Linked DNA regions of Homo sapiens. The protein of the gene in region 2 purifies or fractionates together with the protein of the main gene of each other region. This does not show direct contact. Each region holds a gene or a part of one and is shown on either strand. Other genes may lie near its edges.

Region 1 (5,943 bases), on a different chromosome or scaffold from region 2:
TGAGTCAAATTACATTCTCTCTCTTAGCATTTGGAATTAGGACACCACGAGTTAGTTAGTCAAATGATATTGAGCCTGGGCCGGGCTGGCCATGTGGTGGAAGTTTACGCTGATGAGTCAGCAGAGAAAGCCATTCTACAGAGAAGAGCTGAGGGATGGAGCAAATGGCAGAAGTAGGCAAAAGAGACTGTGGCTCTATGAGAGATAAAAATTAGTCTTCTAGTTGTTTCAGTTCTCAGTGGTAATAGTTTGTTCCCCAATTAAGGTTGTCTGTGTAGGCTTACAATAAAGCTCTCTTTATGTGAACCAATTTAAATGGGTGTCTAATTTTTTTTTTTTTTTGCATTGCTTTTGCAGCCAAATGTATTCTGACTGAAACACAGGGTTTGTAGGATTTATTACATTATCCGTAATCTTCTCTAATTGATATTTTTGTAGGGGAGATGCCATCATTTTGTCAAATTAATATTATCAGGATATTTGAAATGTTAGGTTTTTCCGTTTTTTAGAAAAAGAAATCTGTGGATCTTAAATTTTTGCATTACTTATTTTCATATATGTCAAATCAAGTTAGAATGTTTCTTGATTTTTAAAAGATATATATGGTCAGTTATAGTAATAGTTGTCACTTGCCACAGAACAGTAGTAAAAAAATTTGTGAAATGCTTAAATGTTGCTGAATAAAAGCATCATGACAAATTCATGGATACTAATTATTTAATGTAAATATCACCATTTTAAGAAAAGAATACGGTGAAACCCTGTCTCTACTAAAAATACAAAAAATTAGCCGGGCGTGGTAGCTGGCGCCTGTAGTCCCAGCTACTCGGGAGGCTGAGGCAGGAGAATGGCGTGAACCCGGGAGGCGGAGCTTGCAGTGAGCCGAGATCGCGCCACTGCACTCCTGCCTGGGCGACAGAGCGAGACTCCGTCTCAAAAAAAAAAAAAAAAAAAGAAAAGAATATACATGATTGATTCAATAGGTTATATTTTAAAATAAATTATTAACTTACCTGTTTATTCAAACTGATTGCTATCATGATAATAATACTGCCTTTTGTAATTTTTATTGGGCAATTTTTAACATCTAGATCTCCATATGAAAGCTGTTACCTTAAGAGTACTAAAAACTCTTTGATCTATGCGGATAGCCATTTTTAATTAAAATAGTATGTTTTTCTTCCATCTGTAAATAATATTTTTAGATATTTGACTCTTCTGTGAAAGGAAAAGGTAATCTAAAACTTAATTTCTTCACAGACAGAAAAAGCGAAGTAGAGAGGCCAGCAAGTATTCCTCTGTCCTCTGGCTATAGTACAGCATCATCAGATTCAACTCCCAGAGCCTCTACTGTTAATTACTGTGGTTTGAATGAGATTTCAGAGGTAAGAAAATGCTTAGATTATTTCCTTTCTAAATGAGGAAAACAAGCAAGCATTAGCTTTTGTTGTAAATATTGCTAGCAAGAAAAATAGCAAACGCGAATCTTAGTCTCTCAAAATTCTTTCATAAGTAAACAGTACTTAATGCAATGTTTCAAACTGTGTTTTGTACATTCTCGGTCCATCTTTGATGATGGTTTACTTTGAGAAATCATCTAAATTTGTTGCTTTTTAAATTAAAGGAAACAACAATCCAGAAAATGGAAAGGATGAAAAAAATGTAAGTAACAGAAAGGGGCAACAGAAATTCATTTCTCTATAGGGAATTGTATTGGATTACAGTATATATAGAATGTGCATGTGTGTTTCAAACCTTAAAGGTCTCTCAATCAGGTGTGGAATTTCCTTCAGGACTCCACTGGATAATAAATCCACCTACAGTTATGTGTTTGTGAGATGAGTCACTGTTTTAGTTTCCAACAAGCGATTTAAAACTTGTTGGAATTGTTAATGGAATTAACTGCAGAGAGAATACAAAGATATTTTTGGTTGGTAACTAATCAAGAGTATTATCTATTTTTGATAACTGATTTATCAAAATATTAAATAATATATATAGATGGATGGTTTGGAGACATTTTCAGTGTTGTGAAAATATCACTGGTGTTTTTCGGCAAGTTATTGATGAGATACTAAAAATGATGTTTTTGTCTAGTACAAATGGTGTGATTTTTCTAAAGAGCAGTTCAAAGGAAATATGAAATGAAATTGCATATAAGATGATTATGCAGCCTACTACTATAGAAAATTATAATATTATTTAGAAATGCAAAAAGTACTTAACTTACACTTCAAGAATATGACTCATAATCGACTCCTCTTTGTCTTCCCTCTGGTCATACTTAAGTTTATTCATAGTAACTGTACTTATAGATAAGAAAAATATTCAAATTTATTTTAGGCTAAAAAGCATAATTTCAACAACTAAAATGCTATGCTTTATTATGAATTATTGATTTACTTAATATATTATTTATTATATTTCAGGTTTGAAGAAACTGCAGAGTTACTGAAATGTCCAAATCACTACTTGTAGGATTTTCTACATGAACTTTTTTCTAGGACTTTGGTTACTATACATATTGTATATTTTAAGAATTCTTTATACAATTTTAATATACTGCAATACTGCAGTTTTTGACAATTTGGATTCCATTTGGTATATGAATTTTTGCATTCATTATTGAATAACTCTTTTAATATTTTTGAGCAATGATTATACTGCTTTACCTTGTGTCACTTTTTTTTTTTTTAGGAAAAACTCATGTTCCAGTATATTTCTCTTACAGAGTGAAGTCATTACAGCACTGTATTTCTGTGTTGACATTTGTTGGCAGTGTGCTAAGTAATGTTTTTTAAAGCACAGGCTTGAGGACTATGGTTTACATCCTGTTGGAAACATTCCAAATGGGACTTGTGTATTATACCCAGGAGGCTCTCATATATACCATCTTGGCATCTGTACTGATGAATAAGTTATAATGAACAGTTAAAAATGCTCATTGAAAATTAAATAAAACAAAAAGGCAGTTATTTCATGCTTGGTCAAAAACATCAATACCTTTCCAATTAACACTGAGAAATTAAGGTTAAGATTCTCCTTTTGTACTGGGAAACAGGCTGGAGGACTATGGTCCTCAAGTTTAGACCAAGAGGACTATGGTCTCAAGGTTCACCATGAGAAATGTGTTGAACATTTTAGTATGCTCTATTGTATAATTTTTTTGGAGGGGGGGATGGAGTTTCGCTGTTGTTGCCCAGGCTGGAGTGCAATAGCACGATCTTGGCTCACCGCAACCTCTGCCTACCGGGTTCAAGTGATTCTTGTGCCTCAGCCTCCTGAGTAGCTGGGATTATAGGCATGCACCACCATGCCCAGCTAATTTTGTATTTTTATTAGAGACAGGGTTTCTCCGTGTTGGTCAGGCTGGTCTCAAACTCCTGACCTCAGGTGATCTGCCTGTCTTGGCCTCCGGCGTAACACTTTTTAAGACCAGTGTAACAGAAAGAGAATGTAGCCATTCTAGCCACCGTTAAAAGATACACAGTGAGGTGTTGTGTTTTGTTTTTTTAATGATGAAAAGTTACACATTTTTTGGAGAGAAAAGTCTTAGCTGAAGGTAAATCAATGGAAAAATGAAATTTATTTTTAATATTACTACTATATGAATTATCTTTTTTTAAACTTGTAGATAAAAGTGTTCCAGTAATCAGAAAATCCTCAAGAAAATTGACTTCATTATTTGGAAGGAAAATTAGTATTTTTTTTAATATTATATGGACCATCTGATTATATTTTATTTATTCATCTATTTATGGTATGTATGTATAATTCTATATTACACTGTCAAATATAAAATATTGTTATATGAGTAGAAATCACTTAAATTTTTTTTGTGTTTGTGAATTTGAAACAGTGTAAGAAATCACTTTTAAGAAAACATTTTTAGAATTCCTTTGTTTTTTTTTTTTTTCTTTTTGAAACAGGGTCTCACTCTATTGCCCAGGCTGGAGTGCACTGGCGTGATCTCGGCTCACTGCACCTTCTGCCTACCGAGTTCAAGCGATTCTTGTGCTTCAGCCTCCTGAGTAGCTGGGACTATAGGCCTGTACCGTCATGCCTGGCTAATTTTTGTATTTTTGTAGAGACAGGGTTTCACCATGTTGCCCAGTCTGTTCTCAAACTCGTGAGCTAAAGCTACTCGCCCACCTGGATGTCCCAAAGTGCTAGATTCCATGGGTGAGTCACCATGCTTGGCCACATTTTTAGTATTCTAATAAACAGTTGGTCATCAGAACTTTAAAATGGTAGCCTACAGAAACATACAATTTTGAATTTAACAGAGTTTCAGTAAATATTTCCAGAATTAATGAAGCATGTTAGCTTTAATTTTTTCAATTGTGAGAGAAGTACATTTATAAAAATTAAGAGGTTAAGAGGTTATAGTTATAAGGGAAAAAACTTCTGTATCGATTAACTCCTAAAATATCAGTACCAGCATGGAATTATAGCACCACCTTGTGGTTAACATGCCAGTATTTTACCTTTTGTTAAAACAAGTGATTTCCCATCAAACAGGATAATATTTTTTCCCTTTTGAAAAATTCAATTTTAAAAAGAAACATTTTTGAAGTTTTCTTATGGAAGATAGAAAAAAAGTTAAGTCTCTTTCTACCCTTTCTTTTTTTCTTTATATAGTGCAGATATACACACAGAGAAGGGACTTAAAACATTTCTAATCTCCTAGTTTATATACAGTGTGCAAAATATAAGTAAGTATATATTGAAAATATAAAATATTTCATATATGTTATCAGGTGGAAATTTAGAATCCAAATTTTCTTAAACTTTAATAACTTGTCTAACAACTCTCTAATAGGGACTAAAAATCAACTCAATATATCATACATTTACACTTACAAAGAGTCTTTATCTAGACAACATAATTTTTGGAAAAATAAAGCAAATTCAACTTTATTGGAGTTATTGGACAGATCAGCAAATTGTTATTTTAAAAAGTTTTCTTGTTTAGGCAATTTGGTAAGTGGTTTCTAGTTATAAACTAGCCACTGTTGATTAACTTGAGAAGGTGAAGCAGGGGAGTTCTGAAGAGATTACCTAGAGCTACATAACCCTAAGTTAAGTAAAATTTTCACTTTCATTCTTTTCATTCTCTCATAAACTGGTTGAAAAAACACTGTACTACCAACAAAGGTGTCAGTTGCTTGTGCTGCCCTGTCTATGTTATGCTCTGAATAGGTCTCGGTAAAGATTATATGGAAATACTATAAAGAATACATAAGGTAAAATACTAGTCAGAAAGGGTTCAGAAGAAGTTAGCATCAACTGTATGAAAATTCTAGGTAAAGCTAAGTACTATTGAGTTGGAAAAAAGTAATTCTATCATGTTTGCTTGTTTTCCTCTACTGTTTTTAATGTGATGTTGTAATATATTTTAAAAATAAAACTTGAAAACGTTGGGACTTTGTTTCATGCCATTCATTACTCATAACTTTATATAATTGATACACTCTTCAGGAAGCATAAAAATTAATATAACCTTCTCAATTTTATAAACTACAACACTTTTTGAGCTCAAATAACATTGTAACTTTGATTTTTACTTTTTAACAGTCCCCAGGTTTGTCTCCTTTCTTTGAAACTGAAGGCATCAAACTGATCAGCGTGGAAGGAAGTGATGTTTATCTTAAGTCCTAAAGAGTGAACAGAATATAGCCAGGGAAGATGGTTTACGCAAAAGGACTAGCATAAACAAAGGCTTGAAAGGAAGAGCATTTGAAAGAAATTCACTAGGGCTAGCATACTGAGTGTGCTCTGTGTGTGTGTGTGTGTGTATGTGTGTGTGTGTGGCTAGAGGTCAGTTGACACAGGCCCAAGGGGCAGCTTGTATCTTATTTACTGAACCATTTAAGCAGCAGAATATGATAACCAGATCTGAGTTTTTGAAGGATTTATTTTACCGCTTTAATATGGAGAATG
Region 2 (7,992 bases):
TTATGTGATATAAGCCAAAAAAAAAATTCTAAGACATCCCCAACCACCTGAATGGATCCCTCCCCTTGGCCAATGGCATTCCAAAGTTAAGCTGAAAAACCTGTTAAGGCCATGATGGTGGTAGTGGTGGTGGAGTCCTACACCCCTCATTATACCCTCCTCCCTTCTGGAATTTAGGAAAAGCATTAACATTAACACAGATGTCTGTAAGAAACATTTATAATCTATTCTCTCTAAAGCCTACTATTTGGAGGCTTCATCTGTACAATAAAATGTTGATCCCCAGGATACCTTAACCCAGACATTCCTTTCTATTGATAACAACTTTCAACCAACTGCCAATCAGAAAATTTTGAAATCTACCTATGACCTGGAAGCCCCCACCCACTAAGAGTTGTCTTACCCTTCCAGATCAATGTAAATCTTACATGTATTTGACTGATGTCTCATGTCTACCTAAAATGTTTAAAACCAGGGCACACGTTATCAGGATCACCTGAGGGCTGTGTCAGGGGCCACTGGTCACCCATATTTGGCTCAGAATAAATCCCTTCAAATATTTCAGAGTCTGACCCTCATTGACAACAAATATCTCAAAAAAGAAAAACAGAAAGAAAGAAACCCCGTAAGGAGTAAAACAATACAAAATAAATCATTCTTGACTTAAGAATTAGATGAGCTACTGGTGGAAATTTTTGGGACAACTGAAGGAGACAGAAATTTCCTGGGATAAAAATGAGAGAAGTGAATGTACAAGAAGTAACACACCAGTTATAAAGCTTAGAAAGGGAGTGAATGGAGGCAGACAGAGGGGAAAAAAAAAAAAAGCACCCAACAGGATTGGTTTCCATCTTCAAAGCCCTTTAAACTACAGAAACAGTCACTCATTCAACAAATTTAACATGCATTCTGCACTTACTACCTATCAAACACTGTGCTCAACACTTTTTAAGTATCATGTCTCATGTTTCATGTTCACATCAACCCTATGAGGCAGTTACTATTATCCTCATTTTATGGATGAGAAAATAAAGGTTTACAGTAGTGAAGGTCATATGGCTAGGAAGAGGCTTCAAAGCCAGGACTGTACTCTAACGCTACAGTAGTCTAGTCAGCATTCTACATGTGACAAAACACAAAAAAAGAGATCAAGCATGGCACCACAAGTTGGAGTTTCTGCCTCAGACAGCTAGAGCTGCAAGCCTCAATTATATGAGCAGTAAAAGCTCATAAAATTTCTTCACTTTGTCCTTGGTCATCACCTAGGCTTTATTTCTCAAGTTGCTACCCAAGAATTAGATTTTGACTGCCGTAAGTATTTTTCCCCTATAAGAATTACAATCTAAGTGTGGCCGGGCGTGGTGGCTCACGCCTGTAATCCCAGCATTTTGGGAGGCCGAGGCGGGCGGATCACCTGAGGTCGGGAGTTTGAGACCAGCCTGACCAACATGGAGAAACGCCGTCTCTACTAAAAATACAAAATTATCCGTGCATGGTGGCGCATGCCTGTAATCCCAGCTACTCGGGAGGCTGAGGCAGGAGAATCGCTTGAACCTGGGAGGCGGAGGTTGCGGTGAGCCGACATCGCGCCACGGCACTCCAGCCTGGGCAACAAGAGCAAAACTCCGTCTCACAAAAAAAAAAAAAAAAAAAAGAATTACAATCTAAGTGTGGAACATCATGCTTGGCAGCTGTTAAGAGAACCACATCAAGACAAGAGAGGATTTGAAGGGATACACAGACAGCTGACACAGACACACGAAGGATCTCACACCATTACACTATTTTCACCGCCTTGATCATTCATTAAACCTTGTGAAAGAGAAGCCAAATCCTTGACAAGAAGTTGCCTTTACAAAGAAAAGTCGTGAGACATACAAAACCACCAGATCACTATAAAGCAGACAAGGTTTGAGGGCAAATAAATGAGGCCTGGCTAGCTTCATCGTCCTTGTATCACCACCGCCCCCTACTTATCCCAGTGTTCAATTCATCAACCGAAATTTACTGCGTGCCTACTATGCGCCTGGCTCTGAGCCACGTGTTGGGAATGTACTGGTGTAAAGGATCGCTCTCATTAACTGAGGTGAAGTAAGCGTTGAATATACTGTTGAACAAATAAACCTGAACACACTAACTTTCAGTTCAACCAAAGCACCAGCTCCTTCTCGCTGAAGGAAGCTTCCTCACCTTCCGCCCTACTGACATTTTGGGGGATTTTTCTTTGTTGTTGGGGGCGTCCTACACACAGTAGGCTGTGTAACAGCATCCCTGGCTTCTTCGCACTAGATGCCAGTAGCAAGCCCTGGAGCTGTGACTATCAAAAGTGTTTCCAGACATCGACCAATGTCCCCAGGGAAGCAAAATCGCCCCGGCCGAGAAGTACCGGGGTAAGGCCCCGCCAAGTGCTTTCCGTCCCACAACCTTAATTCTCTACACAGCCTTCCAATCTCGGCTCAAACTTCTCCTCCTCGGGGAGGGCTCCCTGACCTCTCCGACTAGATCCGCGCCTTCTGTTTTGCGCTCTTTGTAAGATTTCTCCACTCTACCCTCACTGCGCGCCGAGGGATTACCCCGCTTAACGTCGACTCCCAGGGCTGTGCGCTCCGCAAGGGCAAGGAATGCGCCGCTCGCTGTGTCCCTGGCTATCGGCACAGGGCCTGGCACGCAGGTAAAGTGACTGCCGTGGGGTGAACCACGGACGGCAAAGCAAGGCAACGGGGGAAGCGAGGGGAATGGGACGCGAGAGGGCGTATGCCGGGGCACTGGCTTCGGAGCCGAGGCGCATGCGCTTCGCTCTCCCCGGCCCCTCACGGTGGCAGGTCGCGAGCGTCTGAGGCTTCGCCGGAGCTATGGGAGGAGAGGCAAGGTCGGCCACTAGGACTGAGGCTCCCGAAGGAGGAAAACTTACACGGGCCTGAAAGCGGGCGGCGAAATCCCTCACTCGGGAAGACTGACTGCAGCCACCACGTCTGCGGTGAGCGGTGGTTCCCTCCCTCAGCTCCTCTAACGGCCGTTGCACGCCCGCCAGGCCGCGCGCCACAGAACGCGCGTCGTTTGGCCCCACCCCGTTCTGCCGCCTCTGGCCAATCGGGAGTCGAGCCGCGCCGGCTTCCCGCCCCTTTCTATCCTCTTCTGACCAATCGGCAGCCGAGCCGCGTCGGTATCCCGCCCCCACACGCTACCCTCTGCTCAGAGAGCCGGACGGATCTTTCTGCGCATGACCACGTCGCCACTTGGCTCCTTCTCTGCCCCTTGCCGCGTTTTACCTGTAGGTGGAGCTCTGCTCACCTAGACCTGGAGGGGCCCTGCTGGGCCTGTGCAGGTTGGGAAGCTGGCGGCCCGCGGGCGGGGCTGGGGACACGAGAATCCCACTCAGCTTGCCTCACCCTCCTTCCATTCCAACGCCGGTCTATCAGTTCTCACACCTGAAGCAGGGGTTCAGGTTGTGACCAGGAGTTAGGGTGTGGCCTGGGTCACTGACTAGTCAGGGTCAAGGCTTGGTCTGGGTTGGACGCAGTGGTCAGCCTGTGACCAAGGTTCAGGTTGAAGGGTAAAGGATCAGTCCTGCCTCCCTCCCCAAACTTGGTCCACAGGAAAAGGAACTGTTAAGTCCATTTGCATTAATATGCGCTTGAAGAGTCAGACAGGAAAATTGTTTGAAAGGAGAACAGAACCATCAGCCAAAGGAATGAATCTCAGATAGTGAAATTCTGGGTATCTAGAAACCTGACTTGGCAGGGAGAGATACTAAAAAATTGTATAGGAGGCCGGGCGCGGTGGCTCATGCCTGTAATCCCAGCACTTTGGGAGACAGAGGAGGGCGGATCACGAGGTCAGGAGATCGAGACCATCCTGGCCAATATGGTGAAACCCCGTCTCTACTAAAAATACAAAAATTAGCTGGGTGTGGTGGCGCATACCTGTAATCCCAGCTACTCGGGAGGCTGAGGCAGCAGAATCGCCTGAACCAGGGAGCCGGAGGTTGCAGTGAGCCGAGATCGTGCCCCTGCACTCCAAAAAAAAGTTGTATGGAAAAAAAAAGTTGTATAATTTCTTAGCTTTAAGAGCCAGACAAAGTGAGTTCATTACTGAATAAAAGTCACTCTAGAGGAAAGACCCTAGGGATGTGCCCCAAGGTTGTATCCTTTGTCCTCTCTTTTAGTATTTTAAGATAAGAATATAGAAGACATAAAATAGCAGATTTAATGGATAATGAAAATGAACCTGGGTATGATATGAAATTAGGACCAGAAGCCTCTGTTAACGTAAAGGCTAAAAAAAAAAATGTTAAGACAGGGTGTCTAAATGAATAAATTTATGGACTGAAGGGTAGAAAGCTAGAAAGTGTTAGTCCTGGCCGGGCACGGTGGCTCACGCCTGTAATCCCAGCACTTTGGGAGGCCCAGGCAGGTGGATCACTTGAGGTCGGGAGTTTGAGACCAGCCTGTGGCCAACATGATAAAACCCTACTAAAAATACAAAATTAGCCAGGTGTGGTGGTGGGCACCTGTAATCCCAGCTACTGGGGAAGCTGGGGCAAGAGAATCACTTGAACTCAGGAGGAGAGGTTGCAGTGAGCCAAGATCACTGCACTCCAGCCTGGGCAACAGAGCGAGGTTCTGAAAGAAAGAAGGAAAGAAGGAAAGACGGAAGGAAAGAAGGAAAGAAAGAAAAAGAAAGAAAGAAAGAGAAAGAAGAGTCAGAAAACATTGAAAGGCTTCCATTTCTTTTGTGAAAGGCATATGTGAGGAGGGAGGGAACAGGGGCATCTAGAGGACTGAGAAGAATTAGGAAGATGTGAATTGCTGATACAGAGGATAGAAGAGAAATCCGACTGGAAACATAGTGGAAGTGTTGAGATTTAAATTTACAAATAGCAAACAGTACATTTGTACAGTTCTTTGTAATAGATATCTATAGTTTAAAAGTAATTCCATTATCTACTGTCAATTTTCTTTTTTGTTTTGTTTTGAGACAGAGTCTTGCTCTGTCACCCAGGCTGGAGTGCAGTGGCACGATCTCAGCTCACTGCAACCTCTGCCTCCCAGGTTCAAGCAATTCTCCTGTCTCAGCCTCCTGAGTAGCTGGGACTATAGGCACCCACCACTACACCCGGCTAATTTTTGTATTTTTAGTAGAGACGGGGTTGCACCATGTTGGCCAGGCTGGTCTCGAACTCCTGACCTCAGGTGATCTGCCCGCCTTGGCCTCCCAAAATCCTGGGATTACAGGCGTGAGCCACCGTGGCCGGCCCTACTGCCAATTTTCAAATGTGAATGACTTGTCATATGTATATATATACATATATGCTAGTCAGGGTTATTGCACAGTCTGAGGCTAGGGTCAGGGCTTGGTCTGGGTTGGAGGCACTGGTCAGCCTGTGACCAGGGTTTAGTTTGAAGGGTAAGGAATCAGTCCTGCCTTCCTCCCCAAACTTAGTCCCCAGGAAAAGGAACCATTAAGTCCATTTGCGTTAATATGAGCTTGAAGAATCAGACTGGAAAATTGTTTCAAAGGAGGAACACACACACACACACACACACACACACACAGACACACATGCATTTGAGAAGGAGTCTCTTTATGTTGCCCAGGCTGGGCTCAAACTCCTGGGCTCAAGCTATCCTCCCGTTCAACCTCCAGAGTAGCTGGGACTACCAGCATGTGCCACCACTCTCAGCTCATTTATATTTTAACAGAGACTTTTGGTCCTAGTTTCAGAGAATATTCATGACCAACCTCTTTAGATATATTCTTTGTTTTTTTCTGAGATGGAGTCTTGCTTTGTCGCCCAGGCTGGAGTGCAGTGGAGCGATCTCGGCTCACTGCAACCTCTGCCTCCCGGGTTCAAGCGATTCTTCTGCCTCAGCCTCCTGATTAGCTGGGACTACAGGCGCACGCCACCATGCCTGACTAATTTTTGTATTTTTAATAGAGACGGGGTTTCACCATGTTGGCCAGTCTGGTCTCAAATTCCTGACCTTGTGATCCACCCACCTTGGCCTCCCAAAGTGTTGGGATTACCGGTGTGAGCGCCTGGCCAATATAAGATATTCTTAAATTGTCAGTTACATTATTATTTTTAAAAGACTAGCTGGATGTATTAGTCTGTTCTCACGGTGAGAACAGACTAATGTTCACTGGGTAAGACATACCTGAGACTAGGTAATTTATAAAGGGAAGAGGTTTAATTGACTCACAGTTCCACAGGGCTGGGGAGGCCTCAGGAAACTTACAATCATGGCAGAAGGGGAAGCAAACACATCCTTCTTCACATGGTGACAGCAAGGAGAAGTGCCCAGCAAAAAGGGGAAAAGCCCTTTATAAAACCATCAGATCTTGTGAGAAGTCACTTTCATGAGACCAGCATGAGGGCAACCGCCCCCATGATTAAATTACCTCCCTTCAGTTCCCTCCTATGACACATGGAGATTATGGGAACAAGATGAGATTTGGGTAGGGACACAGCGAAATCATATCACTGAATATTTTAATAAAATATATCAAGTACACTGACTTAATGACTGAAAAGGGACAGGGTTAGTCCAGATGTGACCCACCTCAGTATAAAAAAAAAATTGCAACTTAGTTACAATCATATAATTAGAGTTATCACTTTCATATGCACTGTGTGGTCTGGTGGATTATTTTATAAGCATCTATTGTTACACAGCACTGAGGCTTCTTTAACATGGTCAACTAATTTAGTTTAAATGCAATAGCTTCCTTGTTTACTTAATTTTATTTCATTTATTTTCTTTTTGAGATATTTAAGCGGAGTCAATATTTTGTCCTTATCCTTCAAGATATATATGTATATATTTTTTCTACTTCCCTTCTTCCCTCAGGATATATTTTATCTATTTATTTTTGAGACAGAGTCTTGCTCTGCCACCCAGGCGGGAGTGCAATGGCACAATCTCGGCTTACTGCAAACTTCCACCTCTTGGGTTCAAGCAATTCTCCTGCCTCATCCTCCCGAGTAGCTGGGATTACAGGCACCTGCCACCACACCCAGCTAATTTTTGTATTTTTAGTAGAGACAGGATTTCACTATTATGGCCAGGCTGGGCTTGCATGCCTAACCTCAGGTGATCCGCCCACCCCAACATCCCAAAATGTGGGGATTACAAGCGTGAGCCACAGTGCCTGGCCAGGATACATTTTAAATAACGGCAAGGGCTAATGCCTTTGATAGCAGGACTGTTTAAAGTCTACTACAGACGTATAAAGTCAATATGAATTCACAATGAAATGTAATTTATTGCTGATTTAATAAATGTGTGACTTTGATGTGCATGAAAAAATAACATGGATTGATCATTTGACATGATTTTTTTCAGGAGCTGTTAAGGCATTAAAGACAACAAAATGTTCCTGCAAATGAATTTTTTATTTTTTATTTTTTTTATTTTTATTTATTTATTTTTTTTGAGATGGAGTCTCGCTCTGTCACCCAGGCTGGAGTGCAGTGGCGCGATCTCGGCTCACTGCAACCTCTGCCTCCCGGGTTCATGCCATTCTCCTGTCTCAGCCTCCTGAGTAACTGAGACTACAGGCTCCCGCCACCACGCCCGGCAAATTTTTTGTGTTTTTAGTAGAGACGGGGTTTCACCGTGTTAGCTAGGATGGTCTCGATCTCCTGACTTCATGATCCGCCCGCCTCGGCCTCCCAAAGTGCTGGGATTACAGGTGTGAGCCACCGTGCCCGGCCAACCTGCAAATGAAATATTAAGACTGTTAAATTTAAATTAAATTTAGCTTTTTTTTTTTTTTTTTACAAGGTCTTACTGTCACCCAGGCTGGAGTACAGTGGCAGGAACACAGCTCACTGCAGCCTTGACCTCCTGGGCTCAGGTGATTCTCCCACCTCAGCCTCCCGAGTAGCTGGAACTACAGGTTCCTGGCTAATTTTTAAATTTTTTGTAGAGAAGAAGGTCTCAAGAAGGTCTCACTATGTTGCCCAGACTGCTCTCAAACTCTGGGGCT
Region 3 (7,025 bases), on a different chromosome or scaffold from region 2:
CTAGCGCCAAGCAGTAAAAGGTGATTCCTTATGTTAACAATTTCAGCAGAATGGCTTATTAAAACCAGATTTTAGGGTATTATAAAATGCTTAGAAGCCCTTTAAAATGTCAACTACGATCCCCAGAGACTACGTAAAATGTCAACCCAGCTCAAGCGCCTGTTTTAAGCAGAATGAATTAGCGGCATGCTGTCGGAGGCTGTTATCCAAAACAATCAGCAAAGAGGAAAACATCAAGCTTTCTTTGTACTTTTGTATGAAATGGGTCATTTAGAATGATCTTGTGGATATTTGAAGATCACTTATTTATTTAAAGCTGTGACTAAATATTGAGCCCAAAATACCTCAATGTTTTATTTGTTCCTAAATATAAATGTTATATCTTTAAAGAATACATTTTCATCAGAAAGACTGAAATTAGGCAGTATTCTCTTTCATGTTGTCTATTATAATATAATCATATGGTCATTCTAATATTCTTTCCCTCAAATCAGAAGGGAATTCTCATAGCCAGTCATCTCTTTTCCATAGATACTTTTGCTACATTTCCTAAAATATCATTTCTTATCATCAAAACTGATATTTCTCTTATAGTTAAGATAGTTTTAATTAATGATTATCACCTTTTTGGTATTCAGACACAAGAATTGAATAATATAAAGACAGTTTTGAAATCTTAGTATTTAACTTGGTTTTTATTCTGACAATTTTGGATTTCTAATTTGGGAATAACTGATATATTAAAACATGAAATATGCTTACATAAAGTATTCTTTTCTAGAGTTTTCCCAAATGAAACTGGTATGTTGTTTTTTAAAGATAGGAAATTTCACATGGAAGGTAGAATATAGTCACAAAAAATATAGTCACAAAAGGGAAAAATAGATCAGAGCTGGTAGAGATGTAAAAAAATGTGTATTTCCTCTTGATCAGTTCAAGTTTTTGATTATGCATGATATATATTTTTACACACAGATTTTCATATTTTCTATGTATACTACTGAAAGCTTTGCATGTTCATGTCTTTTTAGATAACATTTAGGTGAAAAATGAGACACAATTTTAAGTGGCTAATGGTTTGTTTTGATCCCATTACAAATGCACCTTGTGGACTAGGTGGCATCTATTATCTTTGTTGAGAATATGGGATCATAAAAACATACGGCCGGGCGTGGTGGCTCATGCCTGTAATCCCAGCACTTTGGGAGGCCAAGGTGGGCGGATCACCTGAGGTCAGAACTTCGAGGCCAGCCTGGCCAAAATGGTGAAACCCTCTCTCTGCGAAAATACAAAAGTTAGTTGGGCATGGTGTCCCGCGCCTGTCATCCGAGCTACTCAGGAGGCTGAGGCAGAAGAATTGCTTGAACCCGGGAGGCGGAGGTTGCAGTGAGCCGAGATCACACCACTGCACTCCAGCCTGGGCGGTAAAGCGAGACTCCATCTGCAAAACAAAACCTCATGCATATGTTTGCCATTTATAGATGATCTGTAATGAATCAAAAGTGATACTATTTTTATAAACTCCGTGTAATTCCAAGTGCCTTACGAATTCTAATAAAACTTTAATAATTTTGACAAATTTTGTTACTTATTTGTTAAAACCAACATTTTCTGATAAAATGTTTCTATTCTATTTTTGTCACTTAACTCTTAGAAGTCACAGAGTGAATCATCAAAATTTTCTTAGGTTGTCTAGTATCTGGCCATCAGACAGTGATGAATGACAATGACAGTGATAATGATGTCAGATAAGGCACAAAAGCAATGGAATCTTCTTTTTTTCTTTTTCCCCCTGGGACCTGAACTGGTCTATAATAGGTATCTTTATAATCAGCACCCTTTCTCCCCAACCATTTTTCCTGTGTGCTACAGTCTCTGTGTGGGTAGAGTAAATGCGTACTTTGTTTTCTGTTCAATTGAATGTTGCAATGGCAGAAAAGTATTTAGTATGACTAAAAGTACCTTTAGTACTTAAGGTTACTAAAAGTATAAATGTAAAAATGTACACTCTACATCTTCTTGTGTTCTGAAAATCTAAAACTGATTTTCAATTATAGCACTGGAACAAACATCTTCCCCACCTCCACCCTCACCCCCACAACAAGATGAATTCCGCAAATAAAACTCCTTATCCTTCTGTTACAGAGGATGATGAGAGAGGAAGGAGGCCTTAAGATTAACAGTAAGTTGTCTATAGTATGCAAGGAAATGAATACAAATGATCAGTAGCAATATCTAGTGGCTCATGTGAAAGCAACTTTTTTCTCAGCTTTAGTAAAAATATTTCTAGATTTTTGAAGAAGATAAAGCATTAAAATAATTAGTATGAAGACAAACAGCTACATGAGCTATAGAAATATGGCATATTTCTCAATGGACATAGAATGCTTCATCACCAGAAGAAGCCTCAATGATGATGTTTATTTTCTGGATAAGCAAATAACACGACCTGTATGGCCTCCAAATCCAGGATCCTTCCACAACTGCAGAAAACAGAACAGTACCTTTATTCCATACGTCACTTAGTTCTTAATGGTTTTCTTACCCAATATCTTGCTGATGTTGGAGTTGTGCATGTCAGGAAAGGCTTGAAGGATCTTTCTCCGTTCATCTTTAGCCCACACCATGAAGGCATTCATTGGACGCTTTATGTGGGGTTCATTGCTACCACGCCCTCGGGATTCCCTATAAATTCTTGACTCTGAGACTCCAGCACTTCCTGAAAACAGGAAACATCACTTCGTGTTAGCGTTAAAACTTTTGTCAGCTCTTTTCCTTGCATTCCTATTTTTCAGTCTATTAAGATATCTGAAAAGAAAAAGTACTTCTGATAATGGTACTTCCAGTTCTTAAGACAGATGCTTGTTTATGAAGTTTTTCTGATAAGCCTTGTGGTGGCAAATGTTATATTTGTATTTTTAACCAATTTCTAATCTGTTTTCTCTTTCTTTCAATGGACTGTTTCACCATTTACTTTCAACAGCTCAAAATAAACTCCGATATGTGATTTTTGATGCAATTCGGAAAGAGGATAGTCAGATTAAATCAACAGGCATACCAGTAGTGTAGAAACATTAAATAGGTAAAGAAGCACAAATCAATTTGGCAGAATGGATGATTATAGGGGAGGATATATCTTTGCTACTTAAAGACTGTCTGAACATATAGTACCTTATGTTCTCTTTCTCTCTCCGAGGTTACAAAAATAAAAACACTGACCAAATTTTGAGGTTAAAAACAATATAGGTATTTCCCTGTAATATAATTGGCTTTTCTTTGAAATTATATGCTGACAAATGCATGACATATGCTGATACAGCAATGACAGGTCTGCCCCCCAAAATATATGTAAAACTGGTATGGAAAAGAACAAATGAACAGTTACATTCCTCTAGTTTCTTAAGGAGTCTACAGTCACATGTTTAAGATGAGAAAAATAATAATTTCCTTTGAATTTTCCCCCTAATATTTAAAGTTATCCAAAGAGTCCCATGGACAGTCACATTTCAATCAGTAAGATTCACAGATGATAAAACACAATTCAAGAGTTAACAACGATAGCTTTGGAAGCTGCATTCACTCCTCCAGCCTTATGTGACCCCTTAGAATGGCTTCAGCAGATTAAATTGCTTCCAAGATACTTGAGTTTAGGCAAAGAGAAAATAAGGAGAACCAGTAGAACTCTGACAGTAGGTTTTCACTGGGTATTATCACAAAATAAGTAGATGTATTTTGATAGTATCCAAAACTTTAAAAATACTTTGGGGACTTGTAGAGACTGTATTATCAACAAAAGCACTGCTTTTCTTTTCTTGCTTTGTATTCATTCCTCATCTTTTCTTTATTTTTAAATTTGGAGACACAGGAATCAAACAAAATTGCCCAAACTTGAAGACCTCTATAGCAGCACATTCAAAACATAGCATACCTGTTGGTGAAGTTTCTCAATATTTTTCATTAATAACATGCTCTTTGATTTAATGAAAAGTAGAAAATATTTCACATACAAGCATGATTGAATTTAGGTAATGACAGCAACAAAAACTTTGATGTGTTAATGCTGATTACTGTGGGTATATTTTATCATGCTAATACAACTTAAAATTTATGAAATGTGTTATTACCCGTAATTGTCTTTTATTGACAAAATAAGTGCAAATATATGGCAACATCTTCCTAAAATGGGTTTGTAACTAGCAAGTGATCATTTGCACATCTGCCTTTTCTTGTTCTTACACCTTACAGCAACATAAGCAATAAAATGAACATTATGTGTCTTCATCAAATCTAAACAAGCTCTTTAAATGTACATAGGCTAGGTTTATCTTAGCTAAGTGGAGCTGAAAATAGAAGAAAATGTTTGCAACATTAGACCCAGAAAAATGCAAATTGAATCCAATTGAGTAAAATTCAGTTTTGATAGAATTACGTGTTTCAACGTTCAGGTTTGTTTAGTCCCTTGATTAGTATAGACCTGGTCTTAAAAGTAGAATTGGCCCAAGGCACAGAGTAAACAGTTGTGTATATTGGAGGATTCAAGGGGACCCCCTCTCAAAGTATGCATCTCACTGGTTTGCCTTTGTGCACTCTTCTCTATATGCAGGGAACTTCCCTGTAGTAGTAACAAAGTTGAGGGCGGTACTGCCAAAGGAATGCTTAAAATGCATGGATGCCACCTGACAGTAGAGAGATGTTCCCGGTCAGGGTATTGTATAAGAAGAACAGCACTTCCTTCTTTTTCCCTCTTTGCTACGCTATTAAAAATCAGAGTATCAATTTAATTTCTTCTCACTGTGGATGTTTAGAATGTTCAGAGATGATACAGAAAACAGAAGTCTGAAGGCCTATGAGAAGGGAGCATAAAGCTGTGCAGCTGGTTTCTAGTTAGGTTATAGAGAGTGGGCCCGACACTTGACTATGTAGTACATAGCACTAGGGAGAAGGGTTCCAAAATGTAAGAAACTATCGTGGAAATGTCCTCTGAGCCATGTATTCTGGTGAGGGCTTGACAAATAGAAACTTAAAAAATGAGCCAATAGAAACAAATTTCTGAAAAAGTTCATTTTGGGTACAAGAAATAGGGAAGTGAGGCCGCATGCAGTAACTCACGCCTATAAAACTAGCACTTTGGGAGGCTGAGGTGGGAGGATCACTTGAGCCCAGGAGTTTGAGACCAGCCTGGACACCATAGTAAGTAAGTCCTCATCTCAAAAAAAAAAAACAAAATTGCTGGGCATGTTGGCATGCACCTATAATCCCAGCTACTTGGGAGGCTAAAGTGGGAGGATCACTTGAGCCTGGGAAGCTAAGCATTTTGAGCATTTGCTTTAGAATCATGCCATCTCGAATTTAATTCTTGCCTCTGACACTTAGAGCCCTGTGACCTGGGGAAAATGCTTCAAAACTCCTGAGGCTCAGGCTCTTTCTCTGCAATGGGACTTATCCTAGGTTGACTAGGAATTAAATGAGACGATTTCTGCAAAGCACTCAGCAGAGTGCTTGGCACATGGGGACTGCTCAGTATATGTGACCTCTTATTGTAATGATGAGGTATGAGGTGGCTGTCTAGTCTATTTTTTAGCAGTTTTAATTGGCACTACCTAGACACTTTCTTGCATTATTAGAATATGTATGAACAATTTTCACAAACCATCAGAATCTCCACTCAGATTGAAATCCATCATTGCATGGCTAAATTTTCCTTCTTCATTCTGTTTAACTGCCAGTTGCTGAGTCAGACTCTCCAGTGTTGTTTTTTCCTTTAAAAAAATTATAATGAGAGATCAGTCTAGGAATTAAAATTATTTGAAGACTTTCTTTTTTTGGGCCACATATATAATACATTAACTCCTGGAAAGGATGCAATGTTGATATATTCACCTTTTTACGTTCAGCACATTAACCTGAAGTCATTAAGGGGATGATCAGCACGATTTTTGAAGGAACTCTGATTCTCATAGACCCCTATAAAGTCTTGGCGTTTGGGTTTGGTATGCCTAAGGGATATATGCCGGGATCCTTGGAGACAACCTTCCCAAATTACAAAATGTGCACAGAAATTTCATGGAAGCAACCTGTTTTACATTTGGAATGTCTGCTTTATTTTTGGCCAGACAGTAGAAGTATAGGAGTGGCGTGAAGCCCAGAGAAAGTCTTCCAATAGTCAGGTGACCAAATAATAGAAACATAATTCACAGTAGTGCCCTCTGGTTGCCATCTTCCCAAATGCCATCTGCATTCCTCATGCAAGGGTAATGAAGACGTTTAAATATTCATTGCTAATTGCTTGTCAAGTCTCTGTACATCCAATGTGAGTGCCTGCTACTTGGACCACAATTTGATTTGGATTGCTAAGCCAAAATATTGAGTTGGCGAATTATTTGAGATACAAATATACCAAAATTAGATCTACAGAGACATCAAGTTGTTTAAGCATGCAGTGCACGATTCACATTCATGGAGAACATAGCATTTCAAAATAAATTATTTTTAAGAAAAATATAATGCTTAATCTAAACCATATGAGACATTACTGTCAAATTAAGAAACTGGGTGACTTTAGGAACAGAAAAAGCATATAATGAAACTTGATAACTTTCTCGTGAACTCTCCAGCACTGCTCTGAGGATGATGTAGTACCAAACAGCACCAAAACAGTTTTAAGAAATGCATCCATTGGATCTCATAACATTATCTCAAGTTTCTTTATAATTATTCACCTCATTTTCTGAGGAACATAGTCATGAATCATACTAGTGAACGACATACACTGCAGAACTGCTATTGACACAATAAAATGTTCACAGAAAGTAATCAATGATGTAAGATAATTGTATTACAGGTAAAGGGCCCAACTAATGTTCCCACCAAGAACTAATGAGATATTGAAATTCTTAACACAGTACATGCTTTATCTCAATGAAGTCTCTGACAATGTGACAACTGTACATACTAAATTAAAAAATCTCTTAAGTCAGTGGCCTTGGAACTCCTGTACTCTATTCATCAAATTATGTACATTATTT
Region 4 (7,876 bases), about 180 Mb from region 2:
ACAAAAGTTGTGAAGGGAGGGAGAAAGGAAGGAAACAAGAAAAAGAAAAAAGACTCGAGAAGATGGCACTAGACAAGGAGTAAGAAGGATACGTTTGATCTGAGGGGCTGGAATCAGGCAAGGGTGGGAGAGAGTACAAGATCTCCTCCTCTCCAGAAGTGGGCAATGTTATAATTGATTAGTTGAGCACAATCACCAAGTGCTCTTCTGGGCTCTGTACAAGGTCAGTTAAGTAATAATGGCAATAATAGCTCATATTTACCTAGCACTTATTATGTGCCAGGCACTGTTCTCAGTTTCACTTTATTAAGTCTTTTAATCCTCAAGACAACCCCATGAAGCGTTCATATTAACCCTATTTTATGGCTGAGGAAACTGAGGCACAGAGGTTAAGTTAAATTGCCCAGAGTCACACCGCCAGTGGCATCCGGGATCTAACTCCAGCTCCAGGACTCTTAACCACTAGGCTATATTTGGCCCTTAATGATCCAGAGGTAGGTGGGTCCCTACCCTCCTGGAGATCATGCCTTCCAAACCAGTATCCCCCAAACGATCACGACATGCCAGTTTCAAAGTTGGGTGCATAACTCTGCCCATTTCGCATGCGGGGAAGTCCAAACCCACGCTGCTCATCGATGGGGAACTGGAATCCAAATGTGCTGAATCCCAGCATCTTGTGAAGCGCTTTCTAATGAAGCACAGTGGAAACAGGGGTCAGCCTCAGGCCCTGACTCGCAACTGCGCCGAGGCGCAGATTACGGAGTCAGGGAGCCGGGGAGCCAGGGAGCGGGGGAGAGGGAGAGCGGGAGGTAGCGGGCTGGCGCCGCGTCGGACGAGTCCGAAAGCACAACCGCGGTAGGCAGGGAGACAGCCCCACGCCCAGGGCAGAGAGCAGAGGGCAGAGAGCGGCCTGGCTCGACGGAGAGCGCCGCCCGGCTGGAACCGAGCTTGCCTCCCTGGACTCCAAAACGAGCAGAGTTATGCACCCATCTTTGAAACCGGCATGTCGTGATCCTTTGGGGGATACTGGTTTGGAAGGCATGAACTCCGGGAGGTAGAGACCCACCTACTTGGACTGCTGAGAGCCAAGTACAGCCTAGTGGTCAAGAGCCAGCAGCATCGTCTCTGGCCGTCTTTGGCCAGACCCCTTCACCAGCGCCAGCGCCAGCGCCAGCGCCGAGGCGTCCTGCCCGGAAATTCCCAGAGAGTCAAAGCAAACTTCCCAGGAAAACTCTTCGGCTTCCTCCAAGCCTCTGTCACCGAGGCGGCTGCCAAGAGCGCCAGCGGAGTCTTTGCAGCTGCCGCGGGCCCTCCAGGGCGGGAGCCGCCGCTCCAGCGCTCGGGGTCCTCCCGGAAAGGTCCAGGGCTGAAGTTCAAAATTCACTTCCCGCCCAGGCCCGGCTCACCGCCCCGCCCGGTACTGTCCGGCAACCCCCACGTCTCTTGTCCTCTCCAGCTCCAGTTAAGTCCTGGAGCGCCTCCAGCCTGAAGACCCATGCGGGCAGCTGAGCGAATCCCGCGGGCGATCCCTGCGCGCCTGGGGACGGGAAGCAGCCAGAGCCGGCGCACACACACAACCTTGTGTGTGCGTGTGTGTTTACGTACGGAACGCGCGGGGTGGGAAAACAATGGCGAGCCGCTGGGAACTGAACGACTACCCGCTCCGCATCTCCCTACCCCTAGGCGCGATCAGCGTTTGCAGCGGAATCGGGATGAAAAGGCTCACCTACGATATCCCAGGGCGGGAGGTGGGGGTAGCAAGAAGCAGCCTGCGGTGGGGGTGGGGGTGGGACAGGAGCAGCCGGAGCAGAAAACAAACAGGATGCCGCGCTGGTCTGGTCCGCTGGGGAACGACCCTGAAACCGTGGCAAGGGGAGCGCGTCTGTCCCCCAGCACCCCACGCAACCATGGTGGAGGAGCTCTGCGCCTCGTCGCAGGCACCTGAGCCCCACGCAGGACGCGCGCAGGTCGCTTCGGCTTCCCGCTGAGAAATCCTTAAACTAGGCGCATAGTCGGGCTGATGAGAAAGACCTAGTCCTCTGCGGTCGGCGAGGAGCGGGTTGGGGGTGCACCCTAAGCTCGACCCGCGTGGTGAACGCGCGCGCGCGCGCGCGTACACACACACACACACACACACACAAACACACACACAGCCACGCACTGCCTTAGAGGCTGCCATCCCTCTCCACAAGGACCCAAGTCGGCCAGGGAGGAGCCGCCACTGCCCAGCGTTGTTGGGGGTAGGTGAGGGTCCGTCTCTCCTCGAAAAACTTTGCACAGGGTGGAAACTCGCAGGGAAGAGAGCCGGTGGGTGCCCAGAAACGTAGGGGCGCAAGTGTCAAACTTCAGAGAGCTGGGGAAATGGGCGCGACGGCGCGATCATGGCGGGGAGGGGTGCACTTACTACTCAGCCAGGCGCCGGGCTCGGGGCTCGGGGCTCGCGGCTCCGCGCTCCTGCTCCTCCTCCGTGCGGTCCTCGCGGCTGGCAGCCTAGGCTTCCCGCTCACATGCCCCCGCGACGCGGCGGGCGGGCCGGGTTGGGGAGGCTGGGCTGGGAGGGGGCACGCCCCCCGCCGTCGGCCGGGGAGTCGCTGCGGACCCACGGCCACCCTGGGTCCGCGCCCCACGGGGCCCGCCGTCCCGGGCGGCGAGCTTGGTTCCGGCCGGGCGGCGCCCTCTCCGCCGAGCCAGGCCGCTCTCTGCCCTCTGCCCTCTGCCCTGGGCTTGCGGCCGTCTCCCTGCCTTCCGCGGTCCTGCTCTGCGACTCGTCGGACGCGCAGCCGGCCCGCCCTCCCTGCTCTTCGGCTCTCACGCTCTCCGGCTCCAACCTCAGCGCCTCGGCTCGATTCCGAGTCAGGGCCTACGAGGCTGACCGCTGAGCTCTGGGCTCAGACCTGGGCTCGCCGGTTCTGGGCCCGGGTTCCAGGACCCGTGCTCACACAGTTCAGTTCCAAGCCGGGACTGGAGAAGGGCGCTCGCGGCTCGCTGCTGCGAGGCGACTGGACAGCCTAGAGGAGAAAGAGGGAGGGAGACCGAGAGCGCGCAGGGGGAGGAGGGAGGGAGGGTGGGGACTTGCAGAAGAAGGGAGGGACAGAGAGTTTCCTCCTCCTCCCTGCAGCCGGGTCCATCCAGGCATCAACAGCTGGAAACCTCTGTTGGAAAGGGGAAAGCTAAGGTTTACGGGCGGCGGGGAAGGGTGGGGGTGGAGTGAGGGGGTGTAGAGAAGAGAAGAAAGAAGGATTCTGCCCGCTCCCACTGCCCAGGTATGAGGGTCGCTACAGAGAATCTTCACTCCTTAAAGCAAGACCTAAGAAGTTATTGGTCCAGCTCCAAGCCTCCCAACCCCTCCAAACAGATAGCCTGGACTCGGGTTTTTTAAAAACCCCATTTCTCCGGACTTCCCTTAAGAACCTGATCTCTGCCGGGCGCGGTGGCTCACGCCTGTAATCCCAGCACTTTGGGAGGCCGACGGGGGCGGATCACGAGGTCAGGAGATGGAGACAATCCTGGCTAACACGGTGAAACCCCGTCTCTACTAAAAATACAAAAAATTAGCCGGGCGTGGTGGCGCGCCTGTAACCCCCTACTCGGGAGGCTGAGGCAGGAGAATCGCTTGAACCCGGGAGTGGGAGGTTGCAGTGGGCCGAGATCGCGCCATTGCACTCACTCCTGCCTGGGCGACAGGGCGAGACTCCGTCTCAAAAAAAACAAAACCTGATCTCACCTGTAGCTAGACGGATTCCTGATATCTCCAACCACTCCCTAATCCTGTCATTTGCAGCCTCTCAAATAAATCTTATTTTCTCCTGTCCCATTATATGGGAGGGTGGGGGAGAATGGAGAGTTGGTTTCCTTTCATTCAACGTATTTATCAAATGTCTACATATGACCGGGCGCAGTGGCTCACGCCTGTAATCCCAGCACTTTGGGAGGCCAAGGCAGCAGATCACCTGAGGTTGGGAGTTCGAGACCAGCCTGGCCAACATGGTGAAAACCCCTCTCTACTAAAAATACAAAAATTAGCCGGGTGTGGTGGTGCATGCCTGTAATTCCAACTACTCAAGAGGCTGAGGCAGAAGAATTGCTTGAACCCAGGAGGCAGAGGTTGCAGTGAGTGGAGATCGCACCACTGCACTCTAGCCTGGGTGACAGAGTAAGACTCTGTCTCAAAAAAAAAAAAAAAAAAAAGTCTACCTATGCCTGGCTTACCGGGGTGCTGGGGACACGAAGACAAATGAGACGGTGTCCTGCCCTTTCTGGATTCTGATTTTGTAAAGGAATGGGTGAATATACCATTGCAGTGAAGTGGAGAGGGCTAAGATAGGGCAGGCAAATGGGCACAGGGCCACCAAAGACACTGGGATATGGGGACTGGAACTTCTTGGGGGAGGTGGCATCTGAAATGGGTCTTGGAAGGACCTGTGGGTGTAGGGCAGATTAAAGGAGTGACAATCATGGACCTACTAATAAGTCTATGCCCACAGTGTGGGTGGCCAGCATGTGTTCAAAGGTGATGGTCAGCAAGGCTCTGAAGGCCTTCTAAGGGCTCATCCTTGCCCACTGCTTTGCCTGGCTAACTCCTTTTATTCATCTTTTAGGTCTCAGCCTAGACATCAACTTTCCCTGAAGCCTTTCTTGATGGCCATATCTGGGCCAGGTGCCCCATCTGTGGGCTCTGGAAAAACCCCATTTGTAAATAATATGGTAACCATTCATTTGTCTGTCTCCGCCCTGGACTGTAAGCTCCACAAGGGCAGGGATGTATCTCTCCAGTGTGCCTAGCCAGAGATTGGGAAAGAGCAGGCCCTTCATAAATACTTATTGATCAATACTTGTTGATGGAAGGAAATGGGGAGCCACTGAAGGATTCTAAGCAAGGTCTCAGATGGCATCAATCTAGCTGGAGGTAGGAAGGAGGCCAGTGACCAGACAATGGCAGTGGCCAGGGTAAAAATGATGCAGGCCTGAGCTAAGCTGGGAGTAGGGGGAATGGAAAGGAGAAAACAGGTGGGTGTAAGAGAGTGGGAGAAGCCAACATTAAAGGCTTGATGTTTGGATAACTATGGATGAAGCCATCCTAGAAATCATGAAAGGGTTACCCAAATTGCCGGGCGCGGTGGCTCGCGCCTGTAATCCCAGCACTTTGGGAGTCTGAGGCAGGAGGATCACCTGAGGTCGGGAGTTTGGGACCAGCCTGACCAACATGGAGAAACCCCATCTCTACTAAAAATACAAAATTAGCCGGGCGTGGTGGCTCATGCCTGTAATCCCAGCTAATCAGGAGGCTGAGGCAGGAGAATTGCTTGAACCCCGGGAGGCGGAGGTTGTGGTGAGCTGAGATCATGCCACTGCACTCCAGCCTGGGCAACAAGAGGGAAACTCTGTCTAAAAAAAAAAAAAAAAAAAAGGGTACCCAAGTGCCACCAAGACTTTCCTCCTCCCAGACAACATGCCTGTGTTTTCCATATATCTGGTTGTTTTTCTCTGGCCCCTGATCATCTTCAGGGGGGCAACTTGATTGTGGGTACCTCCCTGCAGCTGTCCTTAGCAACAGCAGATTAAGAGAGGAAGAGCAAAGATCAGCCCTTCCACTCACTGCCACCAAATTAAGATATAAAGTGTCTCCCTACTGGGTCTTAGGCACAATACTGTTTTCCTATATGGTATCTATTTGTACCTTATCCCAGTTCTGTGATGTTGGTGTCATTATCCCCATTTTATCTTATTTTTTAATTTAATTTAATTCCATCTCTTTGCAAGTCCCTGAGTACCTGGAATCCCATTTTAGAGATAAGAAAAATGAAGCTCCAATTAGTGAGACAGGAAGCTATCTGACTGAAGATTCTAGATTTTCTCTACTACTGCACCATTTCCCAGGAACAACTATCAAATTTACATGATGTAACCCAGTCAGCCACTCCTTGAAACACTCACTTCATGAGTCCACACTTTCTTGAGTCCTCCCACCTCACTGGCTGCTCTTTCCCAGCCACCCTTTTTTATGTTCCCTCCTCCATCCTGGTCTCCAGGTGGGCATTCCCTGTGGGCTCTCTCCTACACCCTATTTTCCTCCTACCACATCTCCCTAGGTAAAATTTTGTCCTTTTCCATAGCTTTAAGTACCAACTATGTGGTGATGATTCTCCCAATTATTTAATATCCAAGACTATTATCCAACCACACACTTGATGTTTCTACCCCAGGGCCTCACAGACATTGTAACCGTAATGGGTCCATTGCCTGAGGGCCTGCAAGTCAATACACCAACACCGAGGGTTGCAACAGAAAAAGAATTTTAAATGCAAGGCTGAACAAGGAGAGGAGAGAAAACCTCAAATCTGCTTCTCCGAAGAGTTGGGGGCTAGGGATTTTAAGGGGTTTGGAGTGGGCCGAGGTGTGGGGATCACTGTGGATGTCCCGTGACGCAGAGTCACGGGACAGGGAGATGAAGAAACTGCATTCTCATGCTGATTACGCTCCTCTGTGAGGGTCTTCAAACTGGTGGCATCAGCCATTCTGCTGGAACTCAAGAGCTAAAAACATCTTAAGCAAATCTTAAACAAAAGCCTTATGATTCCAACGTCAGTGATCCTATCTATAGGAACAATGGGGATGCAAATCGATTCTTCAACAAAAGCCTTATGATTCTAACATCAGAAATCCTATCTATAGGAAAAATGGGGATGCAAATGGTCAGTATCTGGTTCTATGGAACTTTTAGCAACAAGGAAGTGCGCCAAAGTGCAACCTAATTAATGCTTTTTCTTTCTTTCTTTCTTTTTTGAGACACGGTCTTGCTGTCACCCAGGCTGGAGTGCAGTGGTGAAGTCACGGCTCACTGCAGCCTCAACCTCCTGGGCTCAAGTGATCCTTCCACCTCAGCCTCCCAAGTAGCTGGGACTACATACACAGGCATGAGCCACCCTGCCTGGCTAATTGTTTTTCATTTTGTGTAGAGACAAGATCTTGCTATGTTGCCCAGGCTAATCTCAAACTCCTGGGCTCAAGTGATCCTCTCGCCTCGGCCTCCCAAAGTGCTGGGATTACAGGTGTGAGCCACCGCACTTGCCTATTAAGGTTAAATTATAACAGTATTTCCGCCCAGAACCTAGCATGTAATACTTGCTAACCCTGTGAGGATGGCTTCCACATCCTAACCCTAACATTGAACCTTTAACCATCATCCCCAACCCAGTACCATCTTCTTTCCCATCCAGTAAATGGTACTACCACCTACCTAATGGCTCAAGTCAAAAACCTAGCCATCATCTGTGATTGTTTCTCGCTCATCTAATCAATTTAGTGAGTCACTGGCCTATCTCCAAAAATATATCCCAATCCATCCATTCCTGTCTTTACCACCCCACCCTAGTCCAGGCCACAATTACCTACCACTCAGCCAGACTACAACGGCCTCACCTGCGGTGACATCATTTCACTGAGGCTGCCTACATCTGCATGACTTTAATATTTGTTCCAGAAATTTCTTCCCCAGGAAGATAAGACTGTAAACTGGTAAATAACTTCATTATTTCCTTCAGGAACTTCCTGAAAATCAATTTATCTGAACAATAGACTGCTCAAACAGCCCCCTTCTCGGGACAATAGTTTGCTTAACTGGGCAAACCAGTAGCTTATCAAACAATTGTTTATTCTTCAAGACCCTCCCTTCACCATGTCCTCCAATCCTAAACTGTTATAAATTTTGCCCAGTCCCAATCAGATCCCCATATTGAAAGATCTGCCTTGAACTAGACTTCAAACCCGATAAAAATCTTTACACCTGTTAAGTTCTTCCCCAAACCCTCCTCTTCCTAGAGTGGGCACCTTTTCATCCTCTTGTCTCAACAAAAATGTCTCTTCTCTCATCTTCCCC

The links.
Region 1: the proteins of CEP85 (region 2) and CEP44 purify together in Homo sapiens (affinity purification with mass spectrometry; 3 studies listed by BioGRID and IntAct, with this or other methods). This does not show direct contact.
Region 3: the proteins of CEP85 (region 2) and SOX5 purify together in Homo sapiens (affinity purification with mass spectrometry; 3 studies listed by BioGRID and IntAct, with this or other methods). This does not show direct contact.
Region 4: the proteins of CEP85 (region 2) and SOX13 purify together in Homo sapiens (affinity purification with mass spectrometry; 3 studies listed by BioGRID and IntAct, with this or other methods). This does not show direct contact.

The regions. Positions count from the first base shown.
Region 1 is NC_000004.12:174,314,906-174,320,848, forward strand, and holds the end of CEP44 (centrosomal protein of 44 kDa), read left to right. Parts: intron 1-1,260; coding exon 1,261-1,385; intron 1,386-1,624; coding exon 1,625-1,662; intron 1,663-2,429; coding exon 2,430-2,478; 3' UTR 2,479-5,423; downstream 5,424-5,943. UniProt on the Homo sapiens protein: Centriole-enriched microtubule-binding protein involved in centriole biogenesis. In collaboration with CEP295 and POC1B, is required for the centriole-to-centrosome conversion by ensuring the formation of bona fide centriole wall.
Region 2 is NC_000001.11:26,229,230-26,237,221, reverse strand, and holds the start of CEP85 (centrosomal protein of 85 kDa), read right to left. Parts: upstream 3,023-7,992; 5' UTR 2,912-3,022; exon of another isoform or gene 2,574-2,911; intron 1-2,573. UniProt on the Homo sapiens protein: Acts as a regulator of centriole duplication through a direct interaction with STIL, a key factor involved in the early steps of centriole formation.
Region 3 is NC_000012.12:23,540,666-23,547,690, forward strand, and holds part of SOX5 (transcription factor SOX-5), read right to left. Parts: intron 5,760-7,025; coding exon 5,651-5,759; intron 2,720-5,650; coding exon 2,546-2,719; intron 1-2,545.
Region 4 is NC_000001.11:204,068,240-204,076,115, reverse strand, and holds the start of SOX13 (transcription factor SOX-13), read right to left. Parts: upstream 3,002-7,876; 5' UTR 2,405-3,001; intron 1-2,404. UniProt on the Homo sapiens protein: Transcription factor that binds to DNA at the consensus sequence 5'-AACAAT-3'. Binds to the proximal promoter region of the myelin protein MPZ gene, and may thereby be involved in the differentiation of oligodendroglia in the developing spinal tube.